5 linked regions of the Homo sapiens genome follow. The protein of the gene in region 5 purifies or fractionates together with the protein of the main gene of each other region. This does not show direct contact. Each region holds a gene or a part of one and is shown on either strand. Other genes may lie near its edges.

What was found.
Region 1: the proteins of SLC25A29 (region 5) and TMED5 purify together in Homo sapiens (co-immunoprecipitation; one large-scale study listed by IntAct). This does not show direct contact.
Region 2: the proteins of SLC25A29 (region 5) and OSTM1 purify together in Homo sapiens (co-immunoprecipitation; one large-scale study listed by IntAct). This does not show direct contact.
Region 3: the proteins of SLC25A29 (region 5) and SLC12A6 purify together in Homo sapiens (affinity purification with mass spectrometry; one large-scale study listed by BioGRID and IntAct). This does not show direct contact.
Region 4: the proteins of SLC25A29 (region 5) and PCDHGB4 purify together in Homo sapiens (co-immunoprecipitation; one large-scale study listed by IntAct). This does not show direct contact.

The regions. Positions count from the first base shown.
Region 1 is NC_000001.11:93,156,408-93,159,926, forward strand, and holds part of TMED5 (transmembrane emp24 domain-containing protein 5 isoform 1 precursor), read right to left. Parts: intron 2,479-3,519; coding exon of another isoform or gene 2,408-2,478; intron 77-2,407; coding exon 1-76. UniProt on the Homo sapiens protein: Potential role in vesicular protein trafficking, mainly in the early secretory pathway. Required for the maintenance of the Golgi apparatus; involved in protein exchange between Golgi stacks during assembly.
Region 2 is NC_000006.12:108,064,739-108,068,257, reverse strand, and holds part of OSTM1 (osteopetrosis-associated transmembrane protein 1 precursor), read left to right. Parts: intron 1-3,519. UniProt on the Homo sapiens protein: Required for osteoclast and melanocyte maturation and function.
Region 3 is NC_000015.10:34,331,263-34,334,781, forward strand, and holds part of SLC12A6 (solute carrier family 12 member 6), read right to left. Parts: intron 1-3,519.
Region 4 is NC_000005.10:141,390,679-141,394,197, reverse strand, and holds part of PCDHGB4 (protocadherin gamma-B4 isoform 1 precursor), read right to left. Parts: intron 1,566-3,519; exon of another isoform or gene 1,385-1,565; coding exon of another isoform or gene 1-1,384. Other genes in the region: PCDHGA8 (protocadherin gamma-A8 isoform 1 precursor), read right to left, coding at 1-1,384. UniProt on the Homo sapiens protein: Potential calcium-dependent cell-adhesion protein. May be involved in the establishment and maintenance of specific neuronal connections in the brain.
Region 5 is NC_000014.9:100,299,939-100,303,457, forward strand, and holds part of SLC25A29 (mitochondrial basic amino acids transporter), read right to left. Parts: intron 1-3,519. UniProt on the Homo sapiens protein: Mitochondrial transporter of arginine, lysine, homoarginine, methylarginine and, to a much lesser extent, ornithine and histidine. Does not transport carnitine nor acylcarnitines. Functions by both counter-exchange and uniport mechanisms.

The sequences.
Region 1 (3,519 bases), on a different chromosome or scaffold from region 5:
GAAAATCACCTTCTCAGAAATGGTGCTGAATGTATTGTCAAAGCAGAACATGTAATCACCAACTTCAGTCTCTACACTGTATAAAAAAAAGTACATGTTTTAAGTTACCTGTATTTCTATTTGTGATGAAAAGCAACTAAAGGTAAAAATAAGAAGTAACAGGCTGAGTGTGTTGCCTCACACCTGTAATCCCAGCATTTTGAGAGGGCAAGGCTGGTAGATCACTTTAGCTCAGGAGTTTGAGACCAGCCTGGGTAACATGGCAAAATCCTGTCTCTACAAAAAAATAACAAAAATTAGCAGAGTGTGAGGATTGCTTGAGCCCGGAAGGTTGAAGATGCAGTGAGGCATGATCATGCCACTGCACTCCAGCCTGGGCAACAGAGCAAGATCCTGTCTCAAAAAAAAAAAAAAAAAAAAAGAAACCAACAAAACAAAAAACAAATAACATAGTTTATAGTAATTGGACAGCTTACCCATAAATTTCCTTAGTATTGAAAGATAATTTATAATTTCTTGGGAAAGAAGCAACCTGAAAATATATATGTTCAAGTACAACTTAGACATGTTTGGCATTTACTCAGTAAATTATGGTTAGTGACCTCATTTTTGGAAAAGGATAGAATTAAAAACCTGTATACATAACTCATAATAAACTTTAATATTTATACATTATTAAAAGTATTTTATCATGAGTTCAATTCATATGCAGATATGACTGCCAACCTACCCTACAACTGAGATTAAACTGAGTTTTGTTTTCAAAAGCAGTGATGGATTGTCCTAAATGTCTTCTTCCAGGCCTCTTACTGATTTTGCCTATTAACTGCCACTGGCTCCCTTATAGATGTTTATGTTTGATCCTAAATGCTTTTTTTGAGAATTAAATAAAACTAGTTTATATTTTATTATTTAATTCTATAAAGGTAATTCAGCCCATCATTAATTATGCCAAGTGCTGAAGAAAAAAATGAATAATATCTGAATTACCAGTACCCTAGTTAAAATTAGTTTCCCATATTAGCGAAAGTTAAAAGCAGGGCCAGGTGCGGTGGCTCATACCTACAATCACAGCGCTTTGGGAGTCTGAGGCAGGATTACTGTAGGCCAGGGGTTCGAGATTAGCCTGGGCAAAAGTGAGACCTTGTCTCTACAAAAATTAAAAAATTAGCCGAGTACACACCTGTAGTCCTAGCTACTCGGGAGGCTTGGTTGAGCCCAGTACTTTAGGCTGCAGTAAGCTATGGTCACACCATTGCACTCTGGCCTGGGCAACATAGTGAGACCTTGTCTTTAAAAAAGAAATTACATTTAAAAGAAAAAGAAAAAGCCTACTTAAGAAAAACCAGTGACATACTCAGATGTTTGCTGCTCTTACAAAATTAATATAGCTAAAGATAAAAGCTTTGTTTAATGTTTAAAAAACAGATTTGTAGGCCGGGCACAGTGGCTCACGCCTATAATCCCAGCACTTTGGGAGGCCGAGGCAGGCAGATCACGAGGTCAGGAGATCCAGACCATCCTGGCTAACACGGTGAAACCCCGTCTCTACTAAAAAGACAAAAAATTAGCCGGGCGTGGTGGCGGGCGCCTGTAGTCCCAGCTACTCAGGAGGCCGAGGCAGGAGAATGGCGTGAACCCAGGAGGCGGAGCTTGCAGTGAGCCGAGATCGCGCCACTGCACTCCAGCTGGGCAACAGAGTGAGACTCCGTCTCAAAAAAAAAAAAAAAAAAAAAAATTTGTAAATCTGGTATAGTGATTAATAGTGAGTTGGACTGCCTGAATGTATATCCTGGCTTTGCCGTTCACTAGCTGTGTAACCTTCAGCAACTTAATTGTTCTATGCCTCAGTTTCCCCATTGGTAAAATAATATTTACGTCATAGGACTGTGGTTAAGAATAAAAAAATTAGTACATGAAAAGTGCTGAGAACACTGGCCTGGCATATCAAAAGAATGCAATAAATGTGAACTATTATAAACTCAATTATTTTCTCCCAATTATTTAATGAGAGGTAATTCTACACAAGGAAGCAGTAAGATACTTATTTTTCTAACAGTGAATTTTATTATCTCAAAAAGGGAGCAAATAATTGGGGAGAAATAAAGACTGACATACATTTTGAACATTTTTAAAATTCTGAAACTTAAAAGATGAACTACATTTTTAGTTTTGTTTTTTTTTTTGAGATGGAGTCTCTGTCGCCAGGCTGGAGTACAGCGGCGCCATCTCAGCTCACTGCAACCTCCGCCTCCGGGGTTCAAGCAATTCTGCCTCAGCCTCCCAAGTAGCTGGGACTACAGGCGTGTGCCACCATGACCAGCTAATTTTTGTATTTTTAGTAGAGACAAGGTTTCACCATGTTGGCCAGGATGGTCTCAATTTCTTGACCTCGTGATCCACCCACCTTGGCCTCGGAAAGTGCTGGGATTATAGGCGTGAACCGCAGTGCCTGGCCCATTTTTACTTCTTATACACCTATCAAAGAGAAAACAGTTAATTCCAAGTATATCAATATAAACTGACTTTTAAAATTACTATTTCTATCTTATTTAGTAATAGCTTATGCAAATATTTTTCTGAGCTCTGCATAGGTAAAATGCCATTTAAAATGCATTTTAAATGAGTATCTTAAAAAATTATTGTTGAGACATTTTTTTCCTCTCATCCATTCATACATGTATTCAGTGTTTACTGAGTATCGATTATGTATCAGGCATTTTGGTTAACAAAGACCAATAATTTTAATAATAGCTAGTTCTTACAATAGTGTTATGTACCAGGGATGTTCTAAGCATATGGTAGAAAGCAAAGAGTTTTGGTCCATCCTGTCTCCACCCTGCATGTGTATCCCTGGAGACTTATTTGACTTCTCTGAGCCTCCTTGTCTATAAAATGGGAATCTTGAGTCAAAGACTCTATCTCATAGTGTAATGGAAAGATTAATTTAGAAGCCTATAACATGCCAACCCTTGTTTATAGCAAATACTAGATACTCCATATTTGCTCTTCTTCCTACAGACTCACAGTTTAAACATATAACAAAACTGACTTAAGAAAATGTTATAGTAAGATAATAGAATGGAACCAGGAAACATACCAGTGAGATATGAAAAGAGGGAAGTGAGGTGTCAGAAGAAGAATATATGGTCTTTTGCTGAACTCTGAACTCAAAGAGTTATAACAAGTATTTTATTTTTATATAGTTCCCTATGATCAGATCTTTTACTTTCAGGCCTTCTAATTACCTAAAACGAATGAGGTCTGAATAAAAAAAAAAAATTTACGTACACACAAAGATATACTGTCCTGTTTTAAGAAAGAAAACTATGGACAAAAATGGCATATAGCCAGCAGCTCAAGAAACTTTAAGACATATACCTGGAACAGTAGCTTTAAGTTAAAATAGAAAGCTTGTGCTGGCCAGAAGGCAGGTTTAAAATGCCACGATAGATTGAATGGAATACCAGGGGAATACTAATTTACTAACCAAAGCACAGAAAAAATTTAGCCTGGATC
Region 2 (3,519 bases), on a different chromosome or scaffold from region 5:
AGAATGAGTAGGAACACTAAGAGTTTAAGATTAAATAGAGGGTAAACTCTCAAAGGTGACTGAGAAGGAAGAATTGGAGAGATAAAGAAGAATGAGGAGAGCATGATGCCCTGTAAATCAAGGAAAAGGGAAGGGGTGGTTATTTGTGTCAAATCCTGCTGAGAGAATTGGAGATATATCTGTCAACACTGGCAGTATTGGTGACACTAACAAGAGTGAATTTGATGGAGTCCTTGGGTACGAAAGTGAGATCAGAGTGGGTTGAACAGGGATTGGAAGATGAGGACATGGGAAGAGTGAACCTAGACAACTGCTGAAGAGTTTGGCCTTGATGGGGAGATAAGAAAGAGAAGTCACTAAAGAGCAATGTGGGACTCAGAGACTTTCTTTCATTTCTCTTTCTCTATTTTTTTTTTTTTTTTTTTTTTTAGACAGAGGCTCGCTCTGTCAACCAAGCTGGAGTGCATGGCACAATCTCGGCTCACTGCAACCTCCACCATCCCAGGTTCAAGCGATTCTCCAGCCTCAGCCTCCTGAGTAGCTGGGACTATGGGTGTGCACCACCACACCCAGCTAATTTTATACTTTTAGTAGAGATGGGGTTTCACCAGGTTGGCTGGACTGGTCTCGAACTCCTGACCTTAGGTGATCTGCCTGCCTCGGCCTCCCAAAGTATTGGGATACAGGCGTGAGCCACGGTGCCAGGCTGACTTTCTATCATTTCTTTCCATTCCCCTGTCCCTCCATTCCTCTGTCCTGCCTTCCCTTCTTCCTTGTCCAAGATGGGAGAGAGCTGGACATGTTTAAATGTTGATAGTAAGGGTCCTTTAGAGAAAGTGAAGATTCTGTAGGAGGGAGTGGGAAGCAGACAAGGTCAGTTTCCAGAAAAGGCAGGATAGATGGGATCTAGGGCATCCTCAGAGAGATGGGCCTTGAAAAGGACAGGTGCCTTCCCCACCTTAATGGGAGGGTAGAAGGAGAGGTTGCATGTAGGGGTAGGCAGGTTAGAGTTTCAGCTCGAAGGCTTCTGTTATCCAGGAGGCTAGATCTTCTTTTGAGAGTAAAGAGTGGGAGAGAGATCAGAGTTTCTGGGAGAGTGGAGAGGATTTGAAATAGCGGTTGTAAAAAGGAGAGAATGAGCAGACAGAAAAGTGAGGAGTACGGTTTGGGATTATGGATTTACTTTGGAATTAATCTGTGTTGTTAATTTTTTGCCAGCAGCTCCTGACTTCCTGGGTGCAGGCATGATCAAAGGAAATGGCTGGCTTCAAGATGGTTAGGGTTCTGCTAAGTAGTTAGGATAGATTTGAGTATTAAGAGTTCTAAGTATAAGCAAGGACCATTGATTTTTTGGTCACTTGGCGAGGTGTTGGGAATACAAAGATGTGACAGTTTCCATTTTAAAGGGACATCTGTCCAGAAGAGAAACCTAAACATATATAGGTGGATATCATGCTTTAAGAAACCATGCATCAGGGTAATGACGCATGGGTCCCACATTGCTCTTTAGTGACCTCTCTTTCTTATCTCCCCATCAAGGCCAAACTCTTCAGCAGTTGTCTAGGTTCACTCTTCCCATGTCCTCATCTTCCATTCCCTGTTCAACCCACTCTGATCTCACTTTCACACTCAAGGACTCCATCAAATTCATTCTTGTTAGTGTCACCAATACTGCCAGTGTTGACAGATGTACCTCCAGTTCTCTCAGCAGGATTTGACACAAATAACCACCCCTTCCCTTTTCCTTGATTTACAGGACATCATGCTCTCCTTATTTTTCTTTATCTCTCCAATTCTTCCTTCTCAGTCACCTCTGATAGTTTACCCTCTACCCAGCTAACACTACCTATTTCATAGAGTTGTTATGAGGATTAAATAAGGAAGTTGGAACATTTGGAACTGGTAAGTAGTAAGTACCTCATCATCGTTTGGATTATTAATCATTTCCTTTCTGTCCTCACTGTTGCCATCATCCTTTCATTATACCTGATCTATGGAAGTAGTGTAATGAGTCTCCCTGCCTCCTCACCCTACATATCACGGCCTAAAGATGTATTCCTCAAACTGCTTTTCATGACACCCTCCTCATAAATCTTAAAGAATTTCTCACTGGCTAACTCTCATGACCCTCACGGCCTCTCATAACCTTGTTCTAACTTAGCCCTTTAATAGCCCTACTTTCATAGACTACTGAATACTCTCCGAATACCACATAATCATTATCACTTTCACCCCATGATCATTTAATTCTTCTATTTTCGAATCCTCTTCTCTTCCTCAATATAGGGCTTAGTTCATATCCTGCTTCCTTCATGAACTCTTTCCTAATTTCTCAAAACTACATTGATATCTTCCTGAACCGAACTGTTCCACACATTGAACACTCATACAGGCTCTACTGTATTGATTTTTAAAATAGCCAGTCACCCACTTATGAAGATTCAACTTAACCAACTAATGACACTTATCCAACTAAACCTACTTAGAGCACTTCAGGTTGGCAGCATGGTAGCTAGGTGAAATAGCATATATCAGTCACTGTGTGCCAGACAGTGTGCTGAGTGATTAATGTATGCTATTTCATTTAATACAGTAACTGTAGGACCCCTGATTTTGAAACTGAACCTTAGCGAGGTTGGGTCAGCTGCCCAAGGTCACTAGCTAGTGACCCAGGCTTGTATTAATACAATATTATTACTTCTACTTAAGAAGTGATAATAGGCCAGGCATGGTGGCTCATGCCTGTAATCCCAGCACTTTGGGAGGCCGAGGCAGGTGGATCGTCTGAGGTCAGGAGTTCGAGACCAGTCAGGCCAACATGGTGAAACCCCGTCTGTACTAAAAATAAAAATTAGCCAAGCATGGTGGCATGTGCCTGTAGTCCCAGCTGCTCGGGCGGCTAAGGCAGGAGGATCGCTTGAACCCAGGAGGCAGATGTTGCAGTGAGCTGAGATTGCGTCACTGCACTCCAGCCTGGGCGATAGAGTGAGACTCCATCTCAAAAAAAAAAAAAAAAAAGTGATAATAGAAAATTTTCTTCTATGGCTGGTATTGCTCAGAAGGTAATTCTAAAAAAGAGTTTTAAAATGTTCTGTTCATGGCCAGGTGCAGTGGCTCATGCCTATAATCCCAGCACTTTGGGAGGCCGAGGTGGATGGATCATTTGAGTTCAGGAGTTCAAGATCAGCCTGGCCAACATAGTGAAACCCCGTCTCTACTACAAACACAAAAATTAGCTGGGTGTGGTGGCATGTGCCTGTAGTCCCAGCTACCTGGGAGGCTGTGGCATGAGAATCGCTTGGATTTTATATTTTAAAGCAGAAATTCTTCCTTTTCTCCCTCTTTTCTCCTTTTTTCCATTTCTTCTCCCACATGACTGACCATTTGTTTCCCAGGAGTTACCACTCTTTTATTATTCATCACACTGTATAACTCCTTGTCTGTGTAACTGCGAGAGGTTCTCAAAGCCCCAGAATTGATGGCATTCTTTTATACTTTTTATATCCTCAGAACTTCAGG
Region 3 (3,519 bases), on a different chromosome or scaffold from region 5:
CTGAGTAGCTGAGATTATAAGCATGCACCGCAACACCTGGCTAAGTTTTCATATTTTTAGTAGAGACGGGGTTTCACCATGTTGGCCAGGCTGGTCTCGAACGCCTGGCCTCAAGTGATCCGCCCGCCTTGGCCTCCCAAAGTGCTGAGATTACAGGCGTGAGCCACCGCGCCCAGCCTAGAGGCATTTTTTGAAAAGCTCTCTAGATCATTCATTATGCAGCCAGATGAAGTAGCACTACTCTCGTACATACATTAATATGCCTTTATCAGAGTACGTTTTTAATTTGTCTCTTGTTTTTAAGTCTACAAGATCTTCAACTCAATGTATATTTATGGTGTACAAGTTATATGTGATATCACATATTACACTAGGTGTAAATGATTTTGTATCCTTGTCCTCAAGAACCCTACAGCATAGTTGAGAAAGATAATATGTAAATAAAAACAAAATATAGTGATATAGGTATTATAGCAATATAGGGACAAAAAGAGCCTGGTTTATTATATCTGGATATGGGGTTCAATCAGAAAAGGTTTCAGAGAGGACATGACTCCTTAAAGAAAGGACTTATCTAAATTACTTTTATGTCTCTAACATCTCTCACAAAAACTTGGTTAACAGCCAGTCTCAAAGTTGTTACACTTAGACCTCAACTCTCCACTTCAGAAACCCACTCCAAGGCTACACACTAGATCACATTACATGAGAAATGCTCTACCTCTGAAATTGCTCACTCCAACAACATTCAACCGTCTGACCACAGTCTTTAATCTTTCTACACTTTTCACCACACTTTACCTTATCAAGTCCTCCAGTCTCTTAAGTGTCTCTATTTTATCTTAGTTGATCATTTTCCTTTGCCGTATTTTTGCATATTTCTATTGTTGGACTTATACAGCATTATAATTTATATACAAATGTGTTTGCTTTGTCTATTAGATCATAACTTTCCTTAGAACAGATTAACGGATGCTTTTTCTCTGTCTTTAACACCCAACATCTTTAACAGCCAGCCAGTGCCTTATCCTTAACTCATTGCTCAGAGTAACAAATATTTGGTGAAGGAATAAGTAAAGTGCTCTAGTCATTTTCACCATTATACCATGAGATCTGCAAAGGTAGAAACTATATGTTACCTGTATATTTCCTACAATTAATACCAGACTGCCTCATACATACCAGCGTCTCAGGGAGTATCTGTTGACTTATAAAAGGTTGAAATGTATTAGGGACTGCAGGCAGGGTGTATGGTTCACACCTGTAATCCCTGAGCTTTAGGAGGCCGAGGCAGGAGGATCATTTGAGGTCAGGAGTTTGAGACCAGCCTGGCCAACATGGTGAAACCCCATCTCTCCTAAAACACAAAATTTAGCCGGGTGTGGTTGCAGATGCCTGTAATCCCAGCTACTTGGGAGGCTGAGGCTGGAGAATCACTTGGACCAGGGAGGTGGAGGTTGCAGTGAGCCGAGATAGCGCCACTGCACTCCAGCCTGGGCGACAGCGCGAGACTTTGCCTCAAAAAAAAAAAAAGAAAAAGAAAAAAAGTATTAGGTCCTGCAAATGACATATAAAAATATGTTTTATAGCCACATGGTTATAAAGCACATGTAAAAAATGTTCATCATAGCAGAGGCAAAATGATGCAAGAAAGAGCACTAGATAAAAGTCAGGAGGCCTGAACTTCAGTCTTGGCTTTGCCACTTTGTGATCTACAAATAACCATCTCTATAAGCCTTAGTTTCCTCATTTATTTTGTTATTTTTTTAGTCTAATCTATTGGGGTTTTAAGTCTCCTCACTTATTAAAATGTGGTTTGATCAGAATAAGATTCTAGATCATTAGCTCTAACATGTGGTGCTTTTCAAAAAAATTACTATAAAAGTGATACACTATAAATACTTAAAAGTTGTATATGCCCTTAATTGTTTTGGTAAAAGAAAATTCCACTCTATTTTTTTTTCTTTTTCTTTTTTTTTTTTTTTGAGACAGAGTCTCGCTCTGTCACCCAGGCTGGAGTGCAGCGGCGTGATCTCAGCTCACTGCAACCTCCGCCTCCTGGATTCAAGCAATTCTCCTGTCAAGGCCTCCCGAGCAGCTGGGATTACAGGCGCACGCCGTCACGCCTGGCTAATTTTTTGTATTTTTAGTAGAGACAGGGTTTCACCGTGTTCCCCAGGCTGGTCTCGGACTCCTGAGCTCAGGGAATCCACCCGCCTCGGCCTCCCAAAGTGCTAGGATTACAGGCGTGAGCCACCGTGCCTGGCTCCACTCTATTTTTGTAACTCACTTTCCAGAGGCATCCACTCTCAACAGTTTCTTTTGTATCTTTAAGGCGTTCTTCATACATAAGCTAATACACTGCTAAGATTCTTGATTTTACCAACTGGACAGTCCTATAAATTCAAATGGAGCCTTGCCAAAATGAAAGAAAAATTACTTTGATAGCAGAAAGAAAACTACTCAGAAAGCCAACAGCAGAAAAAATTAAAATATACTGAAATAAGTATTTAAAACTTCATGTAGGGCTGGGCGCTGTGGCTCACGCCTGTAATCCCAGCACTTTGGGAGGCCAAGGTGGGTGTATCTCCTGAGGTCAGGAGTTTGAGACCAGGTTGACTAACATGATGAAACCCCATCTCTACTAAATACAAAAAATTAGCCAGGTGTGGTGGTGCATGCCTGTAATCTCAGCTACTTGGGAGGCTGAGGCAAAAGAATCACTGGAACCCGGGAGACAGAGATTGCAGTGAGTGGAGATTGCGCCCTTGTACCCCAGCCTGGGCAACAAGTGTGAAACTCCATCTCAAAAAAAAAAAAAACAAAAAAAACTTCATGTGTCACCTCCTGTTTGTGTGATGTAATGTGAGTAGAAGACATATGACAAGAAACTTCGGGTGGGAAGTTTCTCTACAGGAAGAAACGTGGGAGGCATGGGGGAAAGGAGAATCATACTAATGTCACAACCACAGAAGGATGTACAAAGGGTGAAAAAATTCAGAGAACTGTAAATACTAAAATAGCAAACTAACTGTGAAATGCACTATGAGCTTAAGGAGAGTCAACTGTAGAAAGGATGCAGTTGTTATCTATATTAAAGCCAGCCTAGAGGGAAGTGTATATTAACATTAGGCCCTTTTCTTCACAACAGCACCCTTTGAAGATCTACATCTAAATCTAACAAGGGCTTTCACATACTGAGAAGTCAAGGGTGAAATAATTGTGTTTCTAAGTGGTTTCTTCTAATGGTGGGGAAAATTTATCACATGATGACAGTCATCATAAGAATTTTTTTAAATATAGAAAGAAAAAAAAAGAGAAAAGGTAGGTCACTGAGAAAGTATAAAGTTCCACGAGAATAGGGCAAAGTCCTCTCTAATGGCCAGACTATTAATTTCCCTTTCATCTGGGTACCGGAGAATATTTAAACATTAAGTAAGGAATGTGTTATATAGAGAACCAAGCTTTTAACATCTGTAACCACGTAAACAAACATAAATTTCACTTAGATATGTCCCC
Region 4 (3,519 bases), on a different chromosome or scaffold from region 5:
GGATATACGCTGAGTAGGAGGCATGAGGGAAAGTAGGAGGGTTGTCGTTAATGTCTGCCACGTGCAGAGCGATTTGAGTTTCAGTGGACAGAGGTGGTGTTCCTAGATCTGAGGCCATCACTGTGATATTGTAGATAGAGACATTTTCTCGGTCCAAATATTTCCTTGTCACTAATCTATAATAATTACCTATTGACTTTTCTAATTTAAAAGGTAAATTATCACGTGTGTAACAGACAACTTGACCATTCTTTCCAGAGTCTTGGTCATGCACACTCAAGAAGGCAATTACTGTCCCGGGAAGAGAATTTTCTAACACTGGGCTAAACAAAGACGTAATGATCACTTCTGGTCTATTGTCATTTACATCTTCCACCGAAATGAGCAATTTGGTCCTCCCCAGAAGTGCCCCCACATCTTCGGCTTGTATTTCCATTTCATAAAATGAACATTCTTCATAATCTAGACTTTTTGCTATTGATATTTCCCCAGTATTTTCATTAAGCTGGAATAACGGAGTTTGTTTTTCATTAATTTTCCGGAATTTGTATGCCACTTTTCCGTTGATTCCCTCATCCGGGTCGCTGGCTGTTACAGTAAGCAGCCGCGTGCCTGGGGGCATGTTCTCAAGGACTTTCACTCGGTAAATCGGGTGAGGAAAAACCGGGGCATTGTCATTTGTATCCAACACTGTCACGTGGATGCGCACTGTGCTAGAGCGAGGCGGCTTGCCGCCATCCGAGGCCGTGAGGACCAGGTGGTGAGCAGCCTCTTCCTCCCTGTCCAGGGCGCGCTCCAGCACCAGCTCTGGGTTTATGGCTCCATTGTCTCCAGTCTGCACGTCCAGGGAGAAGTGGTGATTGGGGCTGAGCTGGTAGCTCTGGAGGGAGTTCACGCCCACATCCGGGTCAACAGCTTCTGGGAGTGGATAACGTGCTCCAGGAACCGCGATTTCGTTAATTTTTACTTCTAGATCTTCGACCTGGAATTTTGGGTTATTATCGTTAATATCAATTATTTCTATTTCTACCCCAAAGAGTTTTCCTTTATCCTCAACCAGGGTGTTAATATTTATCAGACACCGCGGGCTCTGAGCGCAGAGCTCCTCCCGATCTATCCTGCCCGCGGTGATCAAGCTGCCGCTGCGCGGGTTCAGAGCAAAGAGCTGCGTCCTACCTCTGGAGACGATACGGACTCCGTGCTTCGCCAGCTTCCGGGGGTCCAGCCCCAGGTCCTTGGAGATATTACCCACGAAGGAGCCTTTGTCCGTCTCTTCTGGCACAGAGTAGCGAATCTGTCCCCTCCCGATTTCCCACAGCGTTCCCAGCAGCGCGCACAGCAGGATCAGCTCGCCGCGTCTGGGGCGACTCTGTGGAGCGGCCATTGTTGTTTTGCTGCAGAATCCTCTCAGAATCTTCACTGTGCATAAATGGGTCTTATTTAGTTTCTTGCCGCAGCTATGGAGATGACAATCCTCCGGAAACCTGGAGTGCCTCCAAACAGGGGTCGGGTTTCGCTGCAGTCCAGCAGTTAGTTTGTGGCATCTGCGGGTCTTCGTGAGGTGTGAGATCTGAGTGTTTTCGGTTGCATTTGTCTTCCAGTAGGTGAACAGCGGCGCTTACAGTCCTAAATAGTTACTGCACTGAGATACAGATTACTTCTAAATGTAATACTCTACTAGATTACTGAGAAAAAAAAATCATTTGCTTATTACTTTGTTTTGAATTTATTTGATTTATCCGTAAACCCATATTTTAAAAGAAACAGCCAAAGAATGTGAGATGAAGGTTTTATTTAGTGTTATTAAATGATCAGATTAGATCAGAATGATCAGATTGTAGCATCGGATTAAATTACTCACATTTCTGCAATACATTTGGTCTTAAAAAAAACATGATACTTTCATTTCCCATTGTGCTCTAAGCTTTATTGTAAATGTCTCCAATATATACTAACAAATAACTAAGAACTTCAGTTGTCACCAGAAATGAATTTATCTTGAGACTAAAATAGACCTACTGGAGATGACTGACTCAGAAATTGTTTTATTTGGTTTAAACTACTTAATCATTTTACAAGCTTTCTATAGAGTTGTTGCTTTTAAATTATTCTTCTAAATGCCACTTGAATTACATGTCGATAATATTTTCAAATAAAAATTGTGGAATTTCAATAGGATAAATGCTTTTACCATTGCAGTTTTATGAGATATTACATTGTTTTGCTATTTTATTTACATTGTTTATATTTTTCTATTTGAATACTTGAAAGGTACAGATGAATATATGATAAAAAGCAAAGCTCCATCCCATCCCTTTCACCAAAGAGATGATTAAATTTAAAGCAGACTTGACTTTTACATATATTCTAAAATTAACTTTACCTACATTAACACTTTGATCTAAAAAACTGCAAAAAGTAATGACTATATAATACTTACTAAGAAGCCAAAGGATAAGTATGACTACAAAAAAGTCTGTTTCCCTTCAAGACCAGCCTGGGCAACGTAGCAGATGAACTTATTTCACCCTTCCTTTGAAGACTGGTATGATAGTTTTTTCACTGACTAAAACTTTCTTAAAACCACTCATGAAATCTGAAAACTTTATATTTTCCTGTGAATATATTTTCTTATGCATATGGAAAACTGGGTAGACAATGGAAACCATACCAGTTAAATTAGTGAAAGAAAATATTTTCTCTACTGAAAACAGAAAAATTAGCCAGGTCTGGTGGCATGAGCCTGAGTTCCAGCTAGTCAGGAGGCTGATGCAGAAGGAATGCTTGAGCCCAGGAGTTTGAGGCTGGAGGGAGCTATCATTGTGCCACTGCACTACAGCCTGAGTAACAGACAGAGACTCTGTCTCAAAAAAAAAAAAAGAAAAAAAAAAGAATCGAAAGACGTTTCCTTCTTTCAGCAATTTGTAAAGTGGCCATTAACTGAAGCAGTTGCTTAGATATACCTAGCAAAAGGCTCATATAATGTTCCTTGGTATTTTGTATATATTTTGTATGCACACCAGATTGGCAGTTTTCAAGACTATATTTCTTTCCTAGAGGTAGGAGAATGATTAGAAGACCTCTAGCTATATTAGTTTAGGGCTGCAGATAAGGCAGTTACACATTATATATTAGGGCTGTGTGTGAGAGGGACAACAGACACAAAACATTGTCTTTTCTTTGATGAAGGATATAGAATGAGCTTGAATACAGATTAATCCTGAAACTCCTATGTTACAAGTAAGGAGAATCTGCTTTTGATCTTCTAATGAGCATAGTAGACCTTTTTCTAAGTAAAAGGATCTCTCTCACACACACACACACACACACGCACACACAGCGTACACTGCATATAATCACAAGGGGTCCATGGACATAAAAATCCAGTTGACTCCTTATTCTAAGAGCTTTTGAAACAAAAGGGAAGTTAACACAGGAAACAAAACAGTGGACTACTATGGAGACCATACCAGTTAAATTAGTTAAGAAAAGTGTTGAATTTTAGCTTAAATTCTTTGG
Region 5 (3,519 bases):
ACTTTGTATCTTTACCTAACATCCTATCCATCCTTTAATACTTTGGACCTGGCCAGGTGTGGTGGCTCACGCCTGTAATCCCAGCACTTTGGGAGGCCAAGGTGGGCAGATCACTTGAGATCAGGAGTTCAAAACCAGCCTAGCCAACATGGTGAAACCCCGTCTCTACTAAAAATACAAAAATTAGCCAGGTGTGGTGGCGGGTGCCTATAGTCCCAGCTACTCAGGAGGCTGAGGTGGGAGAATTGCTTGAATCCAGGAGGCAGAAGTTGCAGTGAGCTGAGATCGCGCTACTGCACTCCAGCGACCCAGAGAGCAAGACTCCGTTTCAAAAAGAAAAAAAAGTTTGGACCCTAAAACCCACTTGATACTCACTTTAACTTTGCCAGTTCTGCTTTCTCTTTGGTTACATGTGACTGGTATGGTTTTGTCCAACTTGTAATTTTGGTGTTTTTGTTTTTTGAGACAAGATCTCACTCTGTCACCCAAACTGGAGTGCAGTGGCATAATCTTGGCTCACTGCAACCTCCACCTCCTGGGCTCAATCGACCCTCCTGCCTTAGCCTCCCAAGTAGCTGAGACAACAGGCATGAGCCACCACACCCAGCTAATTTTTGTAATTTTGGCAGGATGGGTCTTGCCATGCTGCCCAGGCTTTGTTCAAGAAAACTCCTGACTTCAAAAAAAGCCAAGCCTCCCAAAGTGCTGGGATTACAGACATGAGCCACTGTGCCCAATGTGTAGTTTTGAACCTTTTCTTACTATCTTCTTTTAGATGTTTGTTGTAAACAACTGTATCTGGATTTTGTTTTCTAACCCAGTCTAAAGCAGTCTGATTTTGCTGGAACAACTGAGGGATCTGACATTTTTATGCCACTTTATTTTATGTAAATGGTTTATTTTACTCCTTTTTCCATACTTTTGATGGTTTGGGAAAATTACTATTTATTCCCTTTCTTTTATTTATTTTTTATTTTTTGAGACAGAGTCTCGCTCTGTCGCCCAGGCTGGAGTGTAGTGTTGCGGTCTCGGCTCACTGCAAGCTCCACCTCCCGGGTTCATGCCATTCTCCTGCCTCAGCCTCCCGAGTAGCTGGGACTACAGGCGCCCGCCACCACACCTGGCTAATTTTTTGTATGTTTAGTAGAGACAGAGTTTCACCATGTTAGCCAGGATGGTGTCGATCTCCTGACCTTGTGGCCCGCCCACTTTGGCCTCCCAAAGTGCTGGGATTACAGACTTTAGCCACCACGCCTGGCCTATTCCCTTTCTTTTTTTGAGAGTCTTGCTAGTGCCGTTGCGCGATCTGGGCTGACTGCAACCTCTGCCTCCCAGGTTCAAGTGATTCTCCTGCCTCAGCAGGACTACAGGCCCACCCCACCACACCCAGCTAATTTTTGTATTTTTAGTAGAGAAGGGGTTTCGCCATGTTGGCCAGGCTGGTCTAAAACTCATGACCTCATTGATCCGCCTGCCTCGGCCTCCCAAAGTGCTGGGATTACAGGCGTGAGCCACCACGCCCAGCTATTTATTCCCTTTCTAATTGTTAATTTGTAATTTCAGCAAAGGGTTACTTCCTGCTTTTTATTTTTATTTATTTATTTTTTGAGACCTAGGCTGGAGTGCAGTGGCACGATCTCGACTCACTGCAAGCTCTGCCTCCCAGGTTCACGCCATTCTCCTGCCTCAGCCTCCCGAGTAGATGGGAATACAGGTGCCCGCCACCACGCCTGGCTAATTTTTTGCATATTTAGTAGAGACGGGGTTTCACCTTTGTTAGCCAGGATGGTCTCGATCTCCTGACCTCGTGATCCACCCGCCTCGGCCACCCAAAGTGCTGGGATTACAGGTGTGAGCCACCACGCCCGGCACTTCCTGCTTCTAATACGTCTAATCATTATATAGAAACAGGGTAAGCACCGCCTCCCCCACGACTCTCTGCCTCCTTCTGCCCCACCCACCCCAGTAAGAGCTACCCGAAGAAGGCTCCCATCCCTGCCACCTTCCATTGACATTTTCCTCATTGAGACCGTGAGACTCAATGCACAACGATGCCCTCTCCTTCAATCTTGGGGTCTCTACTCATCAACTGCCATTTCATTAGAGCCTTTCTTTTTTTTTTTTTGAGACAGAGTCTCACTCTGTCGCCCAGGCTGGAATGCAATGGCACAATCTCAGTTCACTGAAACCTCCACCTCCCAGGTTCAAGTGATTTTTGTGTTTCAGCCTCCCGAATAGCTGGAATTACAGGCTCCCGCCACCACACCCGGCTAATTTTTGTATTTTTAGTAGAGGCGGGGTTTTGCCATGTTGGCCAGGCTGGTCTTGAACTCCCGACCTCAAGTGAGCCACCTGCCTCGGCCTCCCAAAGTGCTGGGATTACAGGCTTGAGCCACCAAGCTCGGCCCAAAATCTATTTCTTTCTTTTTTTTTTTTTTTTTGAGATAGTCTTGCTCTGTCACCCAGGCCGGAGTGCAATGGCGCGATCTCGGCTCACTGCAACCTCTGTCTCCCGGGTTTAAGTGATTCTCCTGCCTCAGCCTCCTGTGTAGCTGGGACTACAGGTGCGTGCCACCACACCCAGTTAATTTTTATATTTTTAGAAATGGGGTTTCACCATGTTGGCCAGGAGGGTCTCGATCTCTTGACCTCGTGATCCACCCATCTCAGCCTCCCGAAGTGCTGGGATTACAGGTGTAAGCCACTGAGCCCGGCTCAAAATCTATTTCTTAATCTGGTTGGGGAACAGTATGAATGCTCTGGTTGAGAATCCTGGGCCCAGGCCAGCCTTGGTCCTCTGGCTTTCAGTGCTGCAGATGAGAAATCTGCTGCCAATGTTTTTTTTTTTTTTCTCCTTTGTCAATGGTTTATTTATTCTGTGGGAGGTCGCTGAGATTTTATCTGTGGATTTCAAGAATGTCACCAGGAGATGCCAAGGGTGTGTCTTTTTCTTTAAAGTAACCCTGCCTGGAGCTCTACCAACACTTTCACTGTGCAGACTCATGCCCTCTTCTGATCAGGGAAAATTTCCACTATTATTTATTCATCATATTAATCATCTCCAGACCTGTTCCTTCTTCTTCCAGAGCCTCTAACATTCACAGGTGAATGAAGAAGCAACCACCAAGCCTATCTTTTCTTTCATGACTTCCATTTGGGTTTCTGATTTTCTGGGAGGCCTTTGCATCCTGGAAACAGGAAATCCATCCTCTTTTCCACTTCAGCTTTTTAATTTTCTAAAGCTGAAAATCCTCGTTCTAGAACCTCTTTTCTTGGGAAGTATCTGGATTTCCCTCGGTTTTGGAAACTGAACACTTGCCCAGGATGTGCCACTGGACTTTACTTCTCCCTCCAGCAGGGGGCCCCTCGAGGCCCCTCCATGTCCCTTGAAGCTAGGTCCAGCTGTGGGGTCCCCTTCCTGTGGGTGCATGGTCACGCCTCTGGCCCCAGACCTGCCCAGGTGACAGCAACAGCAGCAAGGCGTGGGAGGGAGAGAGCAGAAAGACCCTTACGCCACTT